Homo sapiens: one gene and its partners. The protein of the gene in region 1 interacts with the protein of each later gene in a pairwise test. Each region holds a gene or a part of one and is shown on either strand. Other genes may lie near its edges.

Evidence for each region. The genes of interacting proteins can lie anywhere in the genome.
Region 2: the proteins of DYNLT1 (region 1) and HSPB7 interact in binary tests that used the Homo sapiens proteins (3 or more experiments, as listed by UniProt).
Region 3: the proteins of DYNLT1 (region 1) and PITX2 interact in binary tests that used the Homo sapiens proteins (3 or more experiments, as listed by UniProt).

What each region holds. Positions count from the first base shown.
Region 1 is NC_000006.12:158,641,703-158,649,117, forward strand, and holds the start of DYNLT1 (dynein light chain Tctex-type 1), read right to left. Parts: upstream 3,042-7,415; 5' UTR 3,007-3,041; coding exon 2,980-3,006; intron 1-2,979. UniProt on the Homo sapiens protein: Acts as one of several non-catalytic accessory components of the cytoplasmic dynein 1 complex that are thought to be involved in linking dynein to cargos and to adapter proteins that regulate dynein function.
Region 2 is NC_000001.11:16,015,044-16,022,748, forward strand, and holds the start of HSPB7 (heat shock protein beta-7), read right to left. Parts: upstream 3,001-7,705; 5' UTR 2,921-3,000; coding exon 2,722-2,920; intron 2,180-2,721; coding exon of another isoform or gene 2,165-2,179; coding exon 2,031-2,164; intron 717-2,030; coding exon 537-716; 3' UTR 1-536. Other genes in the region: CLCNKA (chloride channel protein ClC-Ka), read left to right, coding at 7,577-7,676.
Region 3 is NC_000004.12:110,616,923-110,620,077, forward strand, and holds the end of PITX2 (pituitary homeobox 2), read right to left. Parts: intron 1,767-3,155; coding exon 1,203-1,766; 3' UTR 501-1,202; downstream 1-500. UniProt on the Homo sapiens protein: May play a role in myoblast differentiation. When unphosphorylated, associates with an ELAVL1-containing complex, which stabilizes cyclin mRNA and ensuring cell proliferation.

The sequences.
Region 1 (7,415 bases):
CTGGGATTACAGGTGCCCTCCACCACACCCGGCTAATTTTCGTATTTTTAGTAGAGATGGGGTTTCATCATGTTGGCCAGGCTGGTCTCGAACTCCTGACCTCAGGTGATCCTCCCGCCTCAGCCTCCCAAAATGCTGGGATTACAGGCGTAAGCCACCACACCTGGCCCTGTTTTGTTTTAATCATGCCACAATCTAAGACTTCACTTTAAACTAGAATTCATTCTCTTCTTCCATTTCAACTGGCTGCTAGAATCATTAACCAATAGAGAGGCTTAATGAGTTGGTTGATTTTTGTATAAATTAACTGAAGCTGCTGAAGTAATCCATTTAAGATGTAATTCTCTCTTCCATGATGTAAACTGATTAGGAGGATCAGTTTGACCTTGAGGAGATTTTTTTAAAGCACCATTACTTGTAAAATGTACGATGATTACATTATCTCCAGGTAATTATTTTTCTTTCCCAGTGCTGCCCTCCGACTCCAGGACTAACCACCAGCTGCCAGCATGGCTGTTCTCTGTCAGTGTCTGGATGACTCAGGAGGTGGGCTGCCTGCAGGAATCTAGTGCCAGGAGTATAGTTTTCCTTTTACACATGGTAGATCTGAATGGGTAAAAGGTCATCCTGAAAATAACATTAGTCAGGCACTTGCCTGCCAATGTGCTCTTCACATGAGCACAAGCGTTTAAAGTTACTGCTGAGTCCCAGGAAAGGTACGTAGCTCTGGACACGCCTTCGAGAGGGCAACCCCTGGGGCCCTCAGTCAACGTGCATCCTGAGGGAATCAAGGCAGAGAACCCTGACTTGGCAGTGAGTCTTCCTCCCTGTCTGGCTGCTGTCCACTGCAGGCCCTGCCCTTTCTTTTTAGGGGGTTCAGGAGCTGACTGCCCGAAGCCACCTCACTTGCTGTACTCAGAAGTCGGACTTGGAAACAAAACCAACTCACTGAGTGAAGAACAATTTGCAATATCTTAGAGATTAAGTCATTTCTGGAAGCTTAAAGGATCCTTCCAAGTGACTACCGTGACCTTAATCACAAAGGAAAGGCACTGTATCACCTCCCATATGGTTACAGTACGAAAAAGGTTGAGGGACATTTTAAAGAATTTTTAGTGGAAAGCAGAGTTGTATTGAATCCAGTGGATAGTTTTAACGTCTCCAAGAAAGATGAATGGTGAGTTGAGAGAATAGTTACAAAGGCCCAGGCATCTACACGAAGTTAGAAGAGATGCAGAAAAGGCTGCTAAGAGGCTGGTGGGAGGACCAGAACGGGCCATTCAGTAAATACCTAAGACATGCCTACTACAAGACAGCCATGGTCTCCACCTCCCAGGGCCTCCATCCCAGGTAGAACACTCATCACTCTGTCCAGCCCCTTCATTTTACACATATGCGATTGAGATCTCGAATAATGAAGCCACTTAGCCACCTTATTTGTGGGAGTCAGAATCGGACTGCAGTATTAAGCGCTTTCCTTTACAAAGCGATTTCTTTTTTAGAAGTTTTACTCGATATTACTGTAATACAAGACATTTTCCAATATTATATTAGTAACAGTTTAAGGGGAAAGGCTTTTTTCTTTGCCAACTGCTCCTGAACCAGCTCTTCTCGTCATTATTCACTTGGTTGCCATCAGCATTCAAACACTGATTATGCCACTGTCACAGGAAGTGTGTGCTAGTTAGGAAATCAGATCAAAACTGAAACTCTAGAATCAGTCCTTAAGTTTTAGTTTTATTTTCCCTGAAAACATTCCTCCTTAAACGAAATTTTTTTCTTTTTTTTTGGTTTTTGAGACGGAGTTTCGCTCTTGTTGCCCAGGCTGGAGTGCAATGGCGCGATCTTGGCTCACGGCAACCTCTGCCTCCCAGGTTCAAGGGATTCTCCTGCCTCGGCCTCCCGAATAGCTGGGATTACAGGCATGCGCCACCACGCCCGGCTAATTTTGTATTTTTAAAAGAGACGGGGTTTCTCCATGTTGGTCAGGCTGCTCTCGAACTCCTGACCTCAGGTGATCCGCCCGCCTAGGCCTCCCAAAGTGCTGGGATTACAGGCGTGAGCCACTGCGCCCAGCCACTAAATTTCATAAATGGTAAGATATCCAACCTTACCAAATGTATCTATAGTTTATATTTTTGACAGGCTGCATAATAAATCCATAGGGCTCTATCTGAATTTCAACAAGGATTATTCAGTAAGAAGAAAATGAGTGTTGTATCTCAGCTGCGCCCATCAGCTCTATTCCCCGAATGACCGTGAGCTTGAAGGAAAGCCATTTAACGCACACGGTGCCGATGGGTGTCTTCTGCTTGGCGACATCGTGGGCTTTATCCTACTTCCTCAAGGAGGCATAAAAGATGATTTTTTCCCCACAACAATGAGCTTTCTTACAGACATATTAAACGGAAATGAAATGTGCTACTCATTCCCAGCGTTGCAGAACCAGGTGAGGCCCGAGACAAAGGCGCGGGATGGCCGGGACGCCAGCCCGGGGCGGAGGGGCTGGCGGCGGGAGCGTCACCCGCACCTCCGCGGGGAGACGTCCAAGCCTCGGCGCTCCCAGCCCGGCCGCCGCGCCCCGCTCCAGGCTGGGGCTGGGGCTGGGGTCAGCCCCGCAGAGCAAGGGGCGGTGATGTCATCCTCTCGGCGAGCTTGGCTGCGGGCCGGAGGCGAGGCCCTGCGGGAAGGTTTCTCGGCACCGCTCACCGGGGCGCTCTCTCCGAGTCACGCCCGGTGCCTCCCCGCGCGGGAAGAAGCTCAATCCCCTTCCCGCCCCCCGCGCCGGGGAAACGGCGGCAATGTCCGGGCAGAATGGGGCCGGGCGGAGCGCCGGCGACCGGGAAGCTCAGGCCGTGGGCTGCCGAGACTGGCCTAGCTGAAGGAGGTGGGCAGCCAGGCCTTTCCGGGCAGGACCGCGTGTCCTTCCGCGGCCAGGGCTCTAGGCCTCCACCCTTCCGTCGCCGACCCGGCGGTTACCTCCTCCGCAGCCTGGTAGTCTTCCATCTTTCCTCCGGCGCGTCCCCTCCGGCTCCCTGAGTGGCGCGGACTGCGCAGGCGCACTCAGGCCCCGCCCCGGACCTGCCACGCCCCTCTCCTCTCGCGCCTGCCTCGCCCATGCCCAGCTCCCGGGCCCCGCCCTTCGCTGCCCGGACCCTCAGTGACCCCATCCCTGGGCGGGGCCCGTGGGTGGACCCTGAATTCGCCTCTCCTCCTGTCCTCTGGGAGGTGGTAGTTTCCATGGGAATCCGTGAGGGTAGCCGGGCAGCTCCCTAAACCTTAGCAACAGAAACAAAACACACGTACAAAAGGCAGTCCTGGAGGGGAAGCGTGGTCCCGGCCCCTCCTCCGGTTTGTACTGTGTGGATTGACGCGGACGTTCAAACCCGCTCGGACACCTGGCAACAAACTCGAAAGTGACTGCTGAAGGCAGTGCGCCCGGTGAGACGTTGTTGCAGTTCCCTTGGGGACTGGGATTGGCATGCTTTAGCTATCTGAACGAAACTTCCCTTTGGGGAGTTAAGTTTTCCAGGTAAATGAGAATTTTTCCTTTAAGCACCATTAAAAAAAAACATTTTGGGTGGAAAATTTTGTAAAATGTGGCACACTTCCTGACTACCTTAACCATAGTGAACTAGACAGACTTTATTTGTATGTGGGTTCTTTATGGAAATTAGGAATTGCACTGGGCTCTGGTAAACTGCCCTCCACGGAAAGCTGGGGCATATGCATCTATTGGCAGGTATTCTGAGGCTCCGAGTTTTGATTTTGGCGTTTGCTTTTTCTGGTTTCGTCATGCACTTGAATTCAGGTTGCTGGAACCCACTTCCCATTCCCCAAGAAAGAGCTGACTGCAAGGGTCCCAGGGATTTGGTAGACCTAAACTTCAAATCCCACATCTAATCCATCAACAACCCTTGTTATTTCTACCCCATATGCTCGGGACCCCAGTTAAAGATTGATATCTCTCATCTGGATTATGACCATCGGACTGTAACCTGGTCGGTCTATCAGGGTCTTATTAGAGCCCTTCAAGAGGAACCTAACCCAACGACTCCTCCCTCCCCTCACCCATTCTGCCCTGCCATAAGTCAATAGTTACTAAGTTGTCAGACTATAGACTAATCTTAGTGATCTTTGGATGACTAAACTTTTAACATATCTTAGCTCAAAATCTCCTACAGAGAGCCATTCTGTGACCACGGCATCTAAGGTAGCCGACCTCCTCATCCTCCACCCCTGCATCCTGTACATTTTCCTCATAGCACTTCTCTCAGTTTGCAAGAACGTATTTATGGTTGCTTGTTGATGGTGTGTCTCCATTTAGAAACTAAGTACCATGCAGGAAGGATCTGTTTTATTCACTAATGTATCCCCTTCCTTCCACATTGTGCCTGGCACATAATAGCTACACAATTAACATTTATTTATTTATTTATTTAGAGACAGGGTGTCATTCTGTTGCCCGGGCTGGAATGCAGTGGTGTGATCGGAGATTTTGAGCTAAGATGTGTTGAAGTTTAGTCATCCAAAGACCACTAAGAGCTTGAACTCCTGGGCTCAAGGTATTCTCCTGCCTTAGCCTCCTGAGCAGCTGGGATTCCAGGCACTAGCCACCACACCCACCTATTTTTTTAATATGTCTTTTGTAGAGATGGGATCTCACTGTGTTGCCCAGGCAGGTCTCAAACTCCCGGGCTTAAGGGATCCTCCAGCCTCAGCCTCCCAAAGTGCTGGGATTATAGCTGTGAGCCACCATGCCCGGCCTAAAATTTATTGCATGAATCATTTCCCTCATGGGTGTTAGCTTTGCCTCAGACCCAAATGGAGAGAACTGGGGAGTGGAGGAAGATGCAACTACCTGCCTCCTTGAGGGAAACAGGGCTGGCGAGAGGAGGGCAGAGCCCTGACTGACACAAGGCTGCTTGGCCCTGGGTGTTCGGCCTGAGCGAGGAGACTTGCTGGGCAGGCTGGTTGCTTTACCACACCTGGTCTTCCTCTCCTTGGATTCTGAACTTTATCTACCTTTTGAATTCCTTTCTTATTACCTGGCTTCAACTCCCCTGTCCTGGTGTTTCAGTCGTGCGCCTCAGTCCACATGTGATTCTGATGCTGACATTGCTTTGCCTGCCTGCCCTTCTCAGTATCACCTGAGATCTCGTTTTGGATGTTCTCTGCCTACCTGGTTCCAAGCTCTTGGCCCCACCACGATCCTGAGCCAATCAGGAGCCTCTGAAATCTTTTTTCTTCTGCTACTTTGTTGTGGACCTGGAGTTCAGTAGCTAAGTGTCACAGAATTATGTGCAAAGCAAGAGTAAACCGGTTCTGAGCAAACACCTGCAATGGAAGAACATGACACTTGGGACAGCCTTTTCAATTTTCCCCACAACCTTTTAGGAACTTCCTAATTTAAATCAATTTCCTGAATGTCTGCTAGGATGGTGCATAATTAATGCATGGATCTTGTTATAACTGCGGATCACCAGCATGCACATAAATCAACAGAAAACATGCAAATGTGCATTTTAAAAATGCTTACATGATTTTAGCTTTTATACATTGGGTACCACTCTCCAATTTTAACTATTAAAGAACATTTGTTAAATGATCGCGATGTATGACATTTTGAGGCTGCCAGTAAACGGATGAGCTGGTCTGTTTATCTTCACAACTATCTGTTCACTTGTTCAATACACATATATGGAGCACTCCCTTTGTGTCAGGCTCTGAGCTGGGGGTTGAGGCTACAAAGTTGACTAAAACATGGCCTTTATGGAATTTTTTCTTTTAAACGGATATATCTGTAAATAGGAGGGTTTGAATTCTCTAGGCTTATGTGATGTTGTAGTGCTTGGAAAAATGCAGTGATGTGGTATTATATTCTGCCCAACTGATGTAGTCTGTAGGGCTAAGGAATTTAAAATCGTTAAGACATTTGGCAGTTCACCAGATGCCATTTCCAGCACCTTCCATCTGCCACGAATGGATGTCCATCAGAAGCATTGGAGCTCAGACACCTTTACTCGTAACTGCTCATGAATCTTTGGCATTCTGCCATATTTTAGAATAATGTTTAGTTTCTATGCAGTAAGTCAGTGGAGTGAATCTTAGGTTTGTTTTTCAATTTGGAGGTTAGTGATAGGTTGGCAGGTTTGCGTGCAATCACCTTTCTTTTCTGGAGTCAAATTTCTTGAATACAGACTGTGGGACTGGAGCTGCCAATACCTTTATTTAGCAAGTGTGGGCCTAATAATCATAGCAATCAATGAACTGTCACATCAATAAATAACATCAATAATATCCAGCAGTGGCTGGGCGCAGTGGCTCACACCTGTAATCCCAGTACTTTGGGAGGCTGAGGTGGGCAGATCACCAGAGGTCGGGAGTTCGAGACTAGCCTGACCAACATGGAGAAACCCTATCTCTACTAAAAATACAAAATTAGCCAGGCATGGTGGTGCATGCTTGTAATCCCAGCTACTTGGGAGGCTGAGGCAGGAGAATCGCTTGAACCCAGGAGGCAGAGATTGCGGTGAGCTGAGATAGCGCCATTGCACTCCAGCCCGGGTAACAAGAGCGAAACTCCGTCTCAAAAAATAAAATAATAGGCCAGGCGTGGTGGCTCACGCCTGTAATCCCAGCACTTTGGGAGGCCGAGGCGGGCGGATCACGAGGTCAGGAGATCGAGACCATCCTGGCTAACACGGTGAAACCCTGTATCTACTAAAAATACAAAAAATTAGCTGGGTGCGGTGGTGGGCGCCTGTAGTCCCAGCTACTCGGGAGGCTGAGGCAGGAGAATAGCGTGAACCCGGGAGGCGGAGCTTGCAGTGAGCCGAGATCGCGCCACTGCAGTCCCGACTGGGTGAAAGAGCGAGACTCGGTCTCAAAAAAAAAAAAAAAAAAATAATAATAATAATAATATCCAGCAGTGTTGTTCTGCTATAATCTGCAGCCCTTCATAGTCCAAATGCCATCCTGTGGATTTTCCATTTTTTCCTTTCTTCCCCTGTGCCAAGAAGTGTGTTACTATGAGATCATGCTGAGTCAAAATAATAGTAACAGAAGAAGACGATGAGGACGAGGGTGCTGTTGAAACACTCATGGCTGAGGAATTTAATGTTGTAAAGGAAAAGAAACTCTGGCTGACACATATCTAAAGTGAGAGTCCTGTGCTGAGAAAAGCTAAAGAGATTAGCTAAGAAGTGCCTATATTTAGATCTGCTATTGAGCTGGGAAGCGGAGGCACAGTTGTGCTGAAATACCTCTGTACCCCATGAAACAGTGGCTGCTCTGAGCTTCTTGGGTCCCTCTTCCTCTCAATCCTGGTGACTGCAGCCCCTTCCCTGGGACCTCATCCCCAAGATCCAATAACTAAAGGATAACTCGTGGTATAGCAGGGCCTCCGCTGGCAT
Region 2 (7,705 bases), on another chromosome or scaffold:
CTGGTAGAGGGGAAGTTTACCGTCACGGCTGTCTCCTCTTGGCCTTGCTGAGCCCTCGGGCAATTAGTTCCACTTAGATAGGCACCCTTGCCTGTGACCTTCCCTCTGTCCCTCCCACTCCCCTTGGCCAAGAGGGTTCCAGGTCCCTGGTCCCCTTGCCCTGCAGAGACTTCATAGATCAGAGGGTTTGTCTGTCTGTCTGTCCTGCAGAGCTTGCCCATATGTCCTGCTGGTCCCATTCCCCTGACCCACAGTGGGTTCTTTAGATCTTCCTTCCCTGACCCCAGCCCCTGTACTCTGGATTAAGTGACGGAGGCCAAATCTGAAATCTGGGCATCATGTGTCAGGCCAGGGAGTCCCTGGCCTGCCCTGGATAGAGTGGAGGGCCCTAGTTTGGGAGGATGGTCCACCTGGGGTCTGGGGTGCGTGGGGGCTAGAACCTGGGCTGAGATGTCCTGGAGCTGTTGTAATGGGGTTAGCGAGGCTTTGCTGGCAGGCGTGGGGCGGGGGGACAGGGAAAGGGAAGGGAGAGGCACTCAGATTTTGATCTCCGTCCGGAAGGTCTGCTGGACGTGTTCTGTATGCGGGTGACGCCGTGCCCGGATAGTGAGGCTGCCGTCCTCCCGCAGAGCCGAGGTCACCGACGTCGGGTCCACGTCCTCCGGCAGCTGGCACTTGTGAGCGAAGGTGTTCATGACAGTGCCGTCAGCCGCCAGCTGGGGAAGGGGTGACCCGTCAGGCAGGCTGCCCCGACCCCTGTCCTGCTTGTGACAAGCCAGAGCCCTCTTCTCCCCATTCTAACCCCAGCCAGACCCCACATGCCGAGGGGCTCTGCCCTCAGGTGCCGAGGGGCTGCCCAGGGTGGTGATGGCCACAGGCCAAAGGCTCTGCAGGGACAGCGCAGGGGTGCTTCGCAGAGCTCCAGTAGCTCCAAGGAACAGGCCAGGGACATGGGGAAGAGGTGGGGCTTGGAGAGAGAGGAGGCTCCGTGGCAGTGGCTCCGAATCTGGGGCTCCTGGGGAACGTGGAGGTGACAGAGGAGAGCCGTGCCTTCCTGGATCCCCGGGCACATTGGGCATCTGCCCGCCAGGGCTGAGCGCCGGCCCCTCCCCCGCAACTCAGCCAGCACATAGTGTCCAGGGGAGTTTGGGGCGGCTGAGTCACTGTTGGGGGTGGCAGGGCTGGCACATGCTGCCTGTGGGTTTTGGTGCCCCCAGTCCATGGCATCCCTGGCAGGGACGCCCAGAAATCCACCCTTGAATGTGGAGGGGAAGAAGCCAGTCCTTGGGGGCTTAGGAGGAGGCTTGGGTCAGGTCCTCTCCTCTCTCCTGGCAGCCGTGGCTGTCCCTGGGCAACGCCCCTGTTCAGGCCTGGCCATACCCTCTCCAGGGTGGAGGCCCCAGTGCCTCCTAGAAGTTCGGACTCAGACACGCTAGAGACCCAGTGACCCTGAGACCTGTGGGCGGGCGCTGTGTGTGGTTTGGAGTGTGTGTGACCCGAAACTGCAGGGCCCCTGCCCAGCCTCGGGCCTAATTTAGGGGTCCCAAGATGGGGGATGGGTCTCCAGCTGTGGGAGGGAAGAGGGCTTGAGGTGGGTCACATGGAGAAACCCCTCCCCCCACTGCCCAGGTGAGTTCCCCACCTACCCGCATCCGCCCCCCTATAGCTACCAGAGGAGCTGTCCTCACTCTGCCATCACCATCTCACACCTGTCATCTCCCACCCTCAAGCCCCACCCCCTCAGGCTCCCTCTGCCCACATCCCTCCATCCCTCTCCCATTCCTCGGAGGCTCCCTCAGCTGCTCAGGCCCTGGAAGAAAGGATCTGGGAACCTCGGTGCAAAGAGAGGCAGTGAGGGGGCCCCATGGCCATGGGTTGCAGGGACAAGGCCTTCAGTTAGCCCTGGGGGAGTTTGGGTGGGGAAGGGACACTGGCCAGGGTCTGGGGTCCCAGGATGGTAAGGGGGAGTAGGAGACATTGGAGGCAGGAGCAGAATTTGGGATGCGGTGAGTAGGGGGTGGGGGGCTCACCTTCTCAGCCCGCACCTCGATGTGGTTGTTGGAGGTGGTGACAATGATGTCTTCAGGTGAGAAGTCTCTCACGTCCACCGCAAACTCATAGGCGTCTCCTAGGGTCTTGATGTTGCCTGCCCCACCGGGGCGGGCTGTGGGATGGGCTGCTGTGAGCGAGGCATGGAGCAGGCCTTGCATGCAGATCCGGGGGTTCTGGCTCCTTCTCTTGGGGCAAGGGGCGGCTCCCCCAGGCCCTACCTCCCCCCTAGCTGTTTCTCCCTAAGCTCCTCCTCATTCCTACAGCCCACCTTTTCTGGGGTGGGGGTGGGGCCTCACCCAGCACAGTGTGTGTGTATATGAGGCTAGGTCTGTAACAACCCCACCCCAGGCCTGGAGCCTGGGGGCTGCCCCCCACCGCTCACCCATCCAGCCCTCCAGGGCTCCAGCTGGGATTGGCTGTGGTTACAGAGCATGGGTGGCCATGGAACCATGTCCAACCCCCAGGGCCACAACTGTTCCTTAGAGGCCCACCTGTTTTCATGGCCACATCTGTCCCTGTGGCCACATCTGTCTTGGTGGCCACACATGGCTGCAGGCTGTGCAGCACCTGTTCCAGGCCGACCGGCAGCCACAGCGCCTTCGGTGGCGCCCTGGAGCAGACGTCCCCTCCCTGTGCACCTCCCCTCCCCTCAGGGCCCGGATCACTTGCCTGGGAAGGCCAGGGGCTCCGAGTGGGGCCGCATGAAGCTGCCAAAGTCATCGGAAAACATGCTCAGGGCCTTCTCCATGGGCGGGTCCTGGGCCGGGAGAGCACGGGAGGCCGAGGAGGAGGTGGAAGAGGAGGAGGAAGAGGAAGAGGAATGGAAACTTCTCTCCGCTCGGAAGGTGGAAGAGGTTCTGTGGCTCATCCACGGACGGCGCCGGGCCCTGCCCAGGCGGGCGAGGGCTGGACAGGAGAGGGTGTGGGCGCAGGCCTCTGGGCGAGCGTGCCAGGCTCCGACTGCGGCCGCTTTATAAGGCCGACTGTCCCTGGGCTTGGGGCCAGCCCCTTGTCTACTAGCTAAATTTAGGCCTCTCCATGGCCCAGAGGGGGCTGGAAATCTTCTCCCGTGCGCCGGCCCTGCTGACAGCCCGACACGCAGGCCGAGAGGGCTGAGCTCACAGCCTGACATTCCAGGCTGATCACAGCAGCCCCAGGGGCCTCCTCACCACTGCACAGGGCTGGATCCTGTCTCCTTGCCACTCGGACCTCGGTGCCTGCCCCAGAACCTTGCAAGTTTGGGGTTTATTGTGTGTTTTGTTTCCCCCGTCAGCCTGGGGGCTCCTGAGGACTGTGCCTCCCCTCCAGACTCTGGTTCTCCTCCACGGCTGTACCTCCTCCATCAGTGTGCAGGCTCCTTGGGGACAGGGTAGGTGGAAGCACCACCGCTCTGTGACGTCAGGAGCTCCTTCCCTCAAGGCAGACAACCTTCACAGCCCATCTCTAAGGAAAGGTTGAGCCCTGCCAGGGGGTGTAAAATGTGCAGCTGTCCCCTGCCAGCCCCCATGGGGACCTGGATTCTGTGCCTGCACTCCCTCTGACTCTCAGAACATTCAGCAGCCCCAAGAGGACAAAGTTGGCAGCTTTCTCCTTAAAGGTCTAGAAGGTTGTGTTCCCGGCAACTGTCTGCTCCATCTCTGTGTCAGAGGTGATGCCTGCGAGCGCCTTAGGTGGGATTTCAGTCAGAGGTAAAAGAGAATTCCGGAAGACAATTATTCTAGCCCTGAGTTCTAGAATGCCTTCTGGGCATGGGCTCCTGGCTGCAAGCTGTCCAGCACGGCCCCGTTTGATCCCCACACAGCTGGGAGGGTGGAGGGGCTCTTCCCATGTTACGGACGGGGAAGCGAAGCCTCTTGGAAAGGGCGGGGCTCGCAGTTGCGTAAGTGGCAGAGCTGGGATTCGAACCTAGATGTGTTGGACCCAAAGCCCTTCAGAGGCCGAGGTGGTTTGAACATGTGCCTATGGAGACAGGCTGGCCCGGAAGAGCCAGAGAAGCCCCTCCCTACCCACCTGCTTGCTCAGCAAAGCTGGGACTGACCTTGCCCTGGGCCAGGGTGGAGGCCATTCTGAGAGGCGGCCAGGCCCTCTGCTCTGCCCAGGTTGCAGTTAAGGGCCTCTGCTGTCCTCTCCAAATCCGTCCCTTCCGTCCCAGATCAGCTCCAATGCCTCCTCCCCCAGGGAGGCCTCTCTGACTGCTCCTGCTCACATGGGCCCACACCCAGTCCAGATGCCCCCAGCACTGACTGTCTTTGTCCTCCCACAGCACCTGGCAGTGTGACATAGTCTTCCTGTGTGCTGTGACTCTCTGCTGTGTCCCTTCTTCCCTATCCAACTGGCAGTTCCCACGGGGGCGAGGGTTCACCTGTCTCCCCATTAGATTGAAGGTTCTTGAAGACGGGCAGTTTCTCTTTTGTCTGAGCCCCCTACAACCCAGTCTGGAGCTTCATCCTGGAGAGCTCCTTCTACAGGGGTATTAGCGGTGCTGGTGGTATGTGGAGTGGAAGCAGAGCAGGGCACAGGGCACAGCGGCGGGCCAGGCTGTTGCCTGGAGCAACAGGGCCTGTTGCCTCTGGCAGAGTTTCCTGCCCGTGTCGGGGCCTGTGACACCCAGCCTGGCTGAGGGGTTTCTAGGGCAGCTGGGAAGCCACCAGCACTGAGGTGAGATGGAGAGAGGGTGGGGCGGGGTGGGGGGCCCAGAGCCTGCCGCTCGCCAGGGAAACAGGAGCCGGTGGCTAAATGCAGACACACTGTCATGGTGCTGAGGGCCTGAGTCACTGCCCCTGGATGTCAGATCCCGTTACCCACCCCCGCCCACCATTCCTCCTCCCCTTTTTCCCCCTTCCCGAGGCATCACCCACACAAATACTGGATCCTCTGGCTTCACTGACCCAGAGGGACCTCAAAAGGTCATCAAGGACATTCCCCTGCCTCTACCTTCAGATCACAGAGACAGAAGGAGCTACAAAGATGATGCAGTCCTTTGAATCCCAGTCACCCAGGAGAGCTTTTCACAAACACAGACCCTTTCCTTGGACCCCAGGATTTTGATTTGGGATCTGGGGAAGGGACCTCACATCTCTTCCCATCAGCTCCCCACACAGCCAGCTCATAGGCCAGTGATGAAGCCCTCATCACTCAGTAGGTATTCATTGAAACCTTGCTATAAATAGGTGCTGGGCACTGTTCTAGGCTCTGAAGGACTCAGAGATGAATAAGGCAGAGACAGGCCCCTGCTTCCAGGCTCACCTCATCATACAGAAGAGGAAACTGAGGCTCTAGTTGATGAAAGAGTTAGGGTCAGCAGAGCTGTGCTGGCTTCAAACCGGTCATCCTGCTGAGCCACCCTGGCTGCCCTCTTCTCAGCCTCCTGGTGCACACAGGGCTGGGGGGTGAGGGTAGATGTGGACGTGCAGTGCTGGCTGTGGGACAGTAGCCAGCAGCTGCCCCAGACCAGACACTGGAAATCGGGATGTTGACAGGGCAGCCAGTTCTGGTGCTGTGCAGAGTCAACAGGTCGGGGTGGCCAAGGTGAAGGTGGGCTCGAGTCCATACAGAGCGGCAACTCCCATCCCACCTCCCACAACACACATCTTTGATTTTGATTTGACTTGCCTGGCATCTAGGGGCAAAGGGTGGCCCAGGGTCCCAGATTTTAACAATCATCCAAGGGCTATCATAAGCTTCAGAGGGTGGCTTTGTCTGGGTGGGAGTGGAGGCAATTGTCCCCAACCTCTTGCCCAAAAGTGGCATCAGACACAACTCTTCTGTTCTGTGCCCAAACCATTGCCCTGGTTCAGCCTCAGGAGCTGGAGGAGCTTTGGGCAGGGGAAGAGCTGCACAGTGTGGGGCTGGGTTCAGCCTCTGCTGTGTGACCTTGGATGAGTGACTCACCTCTCTGACCATCTACAAAATGGCGAGGCTCTCCCCATTCACAGGGTGTGGGAAGGAGGACTTGAGCTGCAGATGTGACGCTCCTGACACGTCGCAGGCACACGGCAGGTGCTTGTTCCTCGCCATGTCCCCTCACACCTGTGCTGCCATCCTCTGTTGGGGTGGGACAAACTCTGTGGAATTACCCAGAAGTCCCCACCAGAGCCGCTGGCCCTTGGACGTGTGCTTTGAGAAGCATTTCCTGAGCCTGGAGGGTCTGGACACAGGATCAAGTCCGAGTTCCTGACCCCAATTCACTGCCTTGCCCCAGGTGTCGGCCTCCTCGCCAGCCCTGGACAAGATGGGTCATCAGGATGGGACCGTGTGGCACAGCCTGCGGGCTTTGGAGCCAGGCAAACCTGGGCTGGGAATCCTGGCTCTGCCTCGGCCTCCGTGATCTTAGACAGGCAGCCCCAGCTCCCTGAGACACCATTTCTCTACAACGGGATCACGCTGCCTGCCTCGTGGGATTTCCGTGGGCACTCAGGGTAATTAATCTGGGAGAAGGCTGACTCTCTACCTGACACACAGGGAGGCTGTGGTCATGCTGGCCCCACTCACCATTGCCCCCCTGCCTTCTCCTTCCCTTCCCAGCCTCCTCCCCTCTCCCTCTGTGCTTTTTCAAACCTTCCATGTCCAGCTCTGAGACCCCTGGACCCTGAGTCTCAGCCTTGGCAGATGACCCCTCTCTGTCCTGCTGTGTGCATGAGCTCCCCCTTCCCAGCCCTCGTCCAGCAGCACCCAGGAGCCTGAGTACAGCTGGGCACCACCCTCTGTGCAGCTGTGATGGGTGGGGAGGCTCCTGCTCCCCTTCTCTCTTGGCAGTTCTGCCCTGCACAGCTCTGGCCTCCACAGTTCTGGTTGGTTTGTCAAGGACGTTTTTAATCTCCATGGTAAACCCCGGCCGGCGGGGAAGGGGGGTGGCAGGGAGAGAGTGATGATTGGTAGAGCATATACCTGTCCAGGTGCACTGGAGCTGGGAGCAAAGGAGGCTCTGTGAGAGGAGGGCCAGTTCAGCCGCAGCAGGAGGACTGACAGGTGAGGGGTCTCTGGGCGTGGACTGGAGTATGAACCTGGAAGGGCCAGGCAGGCAGGGCATAGGGGATGGTAGGGGCAGTAGCCAGCACCTCACTTTGGCTTTGCAGAGGCCTTCTGGTCCTGGGGTTTTCCTGCCTCTGTGACCTGAGCTGTCGGGGAGAAAGGAGGGTGCTCCGAGATTGGCAGGGAGAGTCGGAGCCATCCATGGGACTCTGCAGTGAGAGAGTCACAGCCCTGGGCAGAGACTGCTCCCAGTAGTGGAAGCACCAAGCGACCCAGGAGGGTGGGAGCGGTGTCCACAGTCTGCTGCTGGACACAGGGGGACACCTAGGAATCCCACCCTCATCCCACAAAATGACACACACAGGCACACACCCTCAGTGACGGAACCTCAGGGATGAGGGCACACACAGACCTAGTGTGATAACACACACACACACGCACAATCCTTCCTCTTCATTTGGGTGGGGAGAGCACTGGAAGGGCCCAGAGGCAGCGCGAGGACGTGCAGCAGCTCACCCGGGTCCTTCCCTCCATCTGCTTCTCCAGGGGCCTGATGGAGGAGTTGGTGGGGCTGCGTGAGGGCTTCTCAGGGGACCCTGTGACTCTGCAGGAGCTGTGGGGCCCCTGTCCCCACATCCGCCGAGCCATCCAAGGTGAGAGCCAGGTCCTCTTCCCTACCCGC
Region 3 (3,155 bases), on another chromosome or scaffold:
GTGGAAGCCTAAATATTTTGAACTGGAGATGTTTCCCTGTAAATTTATTATAGATGTATTCCTCCTGAGAGAAATGCATATAAACTATACATGTATACATGCACAAATATTTCTCCAGAACAATTTGCTAGAGGTGTAGGTTTCCCCGTAAAGGAGTAAACTTGAGAGTCATTTTAAGCTGATGGACTTGCTAAATTTCTTTCTTCTTTTTTCTTTTTCATATTATTTGCTAGCCATAATGGAATCCTCTAGGTTTAAGCCAAAGAAAAATTGGAGAGACAAAATTAGATTTTGTAGCCCTTTTCCCCCCCGGGAATGCCTTTTTTTTTCTTTTTAGTTTCTGATGAATGGCTATCATTTATTTCTACCAAATTTAAATAAGGACTGCTGCCTTGTATGTTTAACTAGGCAGGCAGAGGGAACTGGTTTGTTTAGGAAGCAGTGACTGAGATGTCCTGGCCAAGTTAGTGACAGAGGAGGGGAGAAAGAATCCAGACCAATTTGTATGCAGTATATTTTACTCCCATGAAATAAAACACATTTGTTTCATATTTGCTGAAAAGTAAAACAATAATATTGTACGAAATGTTATACACAGGGTAGGTTGTACATAGCAGTTTCAGAAACATCATTGCATCCACCAGAGAAACTATTCTAAAACTGATATTCACACATTTTTTATAATAATAATAATATGTTAGAAACATACAGTGTGGCATTTAGTATATACACTCCCTTGCTCGCAAGCGAAAAATCCTAATCGCTTCTGTATAACATGCTTTATTTTAAAGCCTAACCTTTAAAAACACTGTTGTGATATTACTAACAACTGCTTTTATAAAATTAATTTGACATTTCGATATATATACATCCTTTCAGTCATTTAAATGTTAACAATGCTAAACTTAAAAAATAACAAGCTTATAGTAATGTTAAAATGTCATATCCAGTCAAACATTTGTTTGTGTATGTGTCCTTGCAACTGTTAGAAATACTTGTAGTGAAAGATGTCAGACACTGAGGACATCCCTTTGAAATCAAAGGAGCTCTCTCTTTGATTCAGTGGTTTCCTTTTCTCTATATAGCTTCTCTTTCTCTCCCTTTCTTTAGTGCCCACGACCTTCTAGCATAATTCCCAGTCTTTCAAGGGCGGAGTTGCCCCATCCGGCAAGGTCCTAGGATCCCGGCGCTGTGGGTGCGGCTCACACGGGCCGGTCCACTGCATACTGGCAAGCACTCAGGTTGGAGGCCGGGTTCTGCACGCTGGCGTAGCCGAAGCTGGAGTGCTGCTTTGCTTTCAGTCTCAGGCTGGCCAGGCTCGAGTTACACGTGTCCCTATAAACATACGGAGGAGTCGGCGGCGCGTAAGGACAGGCAGGCGTCGGCACCGCGGAATTCAGCGACGGGCTACTCAGGTTGTTCAAGTTATTCAGGCTGTTGAGACTGGAGCCCGGGACGCCTGTCACTGCTGAGGGCACCATGCTGGACGACATGCTCATGGACGAGATAGAGTTGGGTGGGGAAAACATGCTCTGTGATGACAGGGGGTTGACGTTCATAGAGTTGAAGAAGGGGAAGCTCTTGGTGGATAGGGAGGCGGATGTAAGGCCCTTGGCGGCCCAGTTGTTGTAGGAATAGCCTGGGTACATGTCGTCGTAGGGCTGCATGAGCCCATTGAACTGCGGCCCGAAGCCATTCTTGCATAGCTCGGCCTGCTGGTTGCGCTCCCTCTTTCTCCATTTGGCCCGACGATTCTTGAACCAAACCTGGGGGCGGTTGGGGCAAGGGAGCAAACAGATGCCACAGTGCAGATTACTAAAACTTCCATCGGAGGCCAACCCCCGCCTTCCCCCGACACACACGCTAGCGCACTCACACACCCTGGCCTCGCTTCACTGCACCGCCCTGCACACCAAGATACCAGGGCCAGCTTTCAGTTACTGGCCCGGGTCTCCACCAAGCGCAGGAGACCTGGTCTGCTCTGGCCTGCGAGCTGGGACTCGGAGCTACGCCACAAACCTCAGCCGAACGCATGGAGACCTGCGGACGGTTTGATCACTCAGCCAGGCGTTTCTCCAGGTCCAAAAACACTTAATGTAAAACAAACGCGGGGCAGCAGGCTTTTCCAACCCTTCCCGGGGCACCTTGCAAACTTGCTTCCATTCCAAAGCCACAGACCCACGGATGAGGAGAAGGGGCTGGAAGGGCACTAGAGGATCGCTCTTTCTCCCACGCAATTCCTCCCTTCCTTCCCTGACCTCCACTGTCGTCCCCCACCCCCTGGTACGTGCTCCCTTAACAGGGACTAGGCCGCCAACACTCTTTCTCGCCTAGCAAAACAACCAAATAAAGAGCAAAAGACCACCTCTTCGTCAGCTCGTTAACTCCAGGAGCTTGGCATATTAAACTCCGGGAACCCGGAAAGGGTAGTTTTGGAGATTCCCCCTTCTTTCGCTCTGCCTCTTCTTTACCCTAAGCCCACCACAGGCCTGTCCGCGCGCCAGGCCCAGCCGGGTCGTTTGGCTTTGCAGGCGGCCACCCAGGCCGGCCGGCTTCCACCCGTGTCCGGTGGCCCAGCCGCAACCCCGATCCCAATCCACATCGGGCCTCCCTGTCGCCCCAGACGGCGGCTTTTGTGTATTGGAGAGAGGCCTGGCCTGAGATATCCGAGCTGACACCAGTGATGTTTCACATTACACATCTCCGCCGGGCCCAGCCGTGTAATCCGCTTTTTCTCTTTTTCCTTTCATTCTTGATTTCCTTTTTATCCCCCTTCCTCTTTGCACCCGACTGCTATAAAAAGCACGCCTCACTCCCACTTGGCTCGACAAGCAGCCGCCCTGGAAGGAGAGGCAGCTGCAAGGAGAGCCCAGCGCCGCGGCTACAAAGCACTAGGGTGGAGCTGCGGAATAGCGGGCGGGGTGGGAGGGCGTTTTCGAAGGATCCCAGAAAACCCATAGACTCTGTCTTTAATTACTTGCCATTTCTACCCTAGGCCATCTAAACTTTGCTCAGGCGAGAAGAGTACGTGAGAGGCCCGTTCCCTTGATGTGCAAGAGAGCTAATGAAAGACTGACCTTGCTCAAAACCACGCCGCCCAGGACCCAGCTCTGGCTCTGGACAGTTAAACTAAAACCATTTTCAACTTCTTCCCG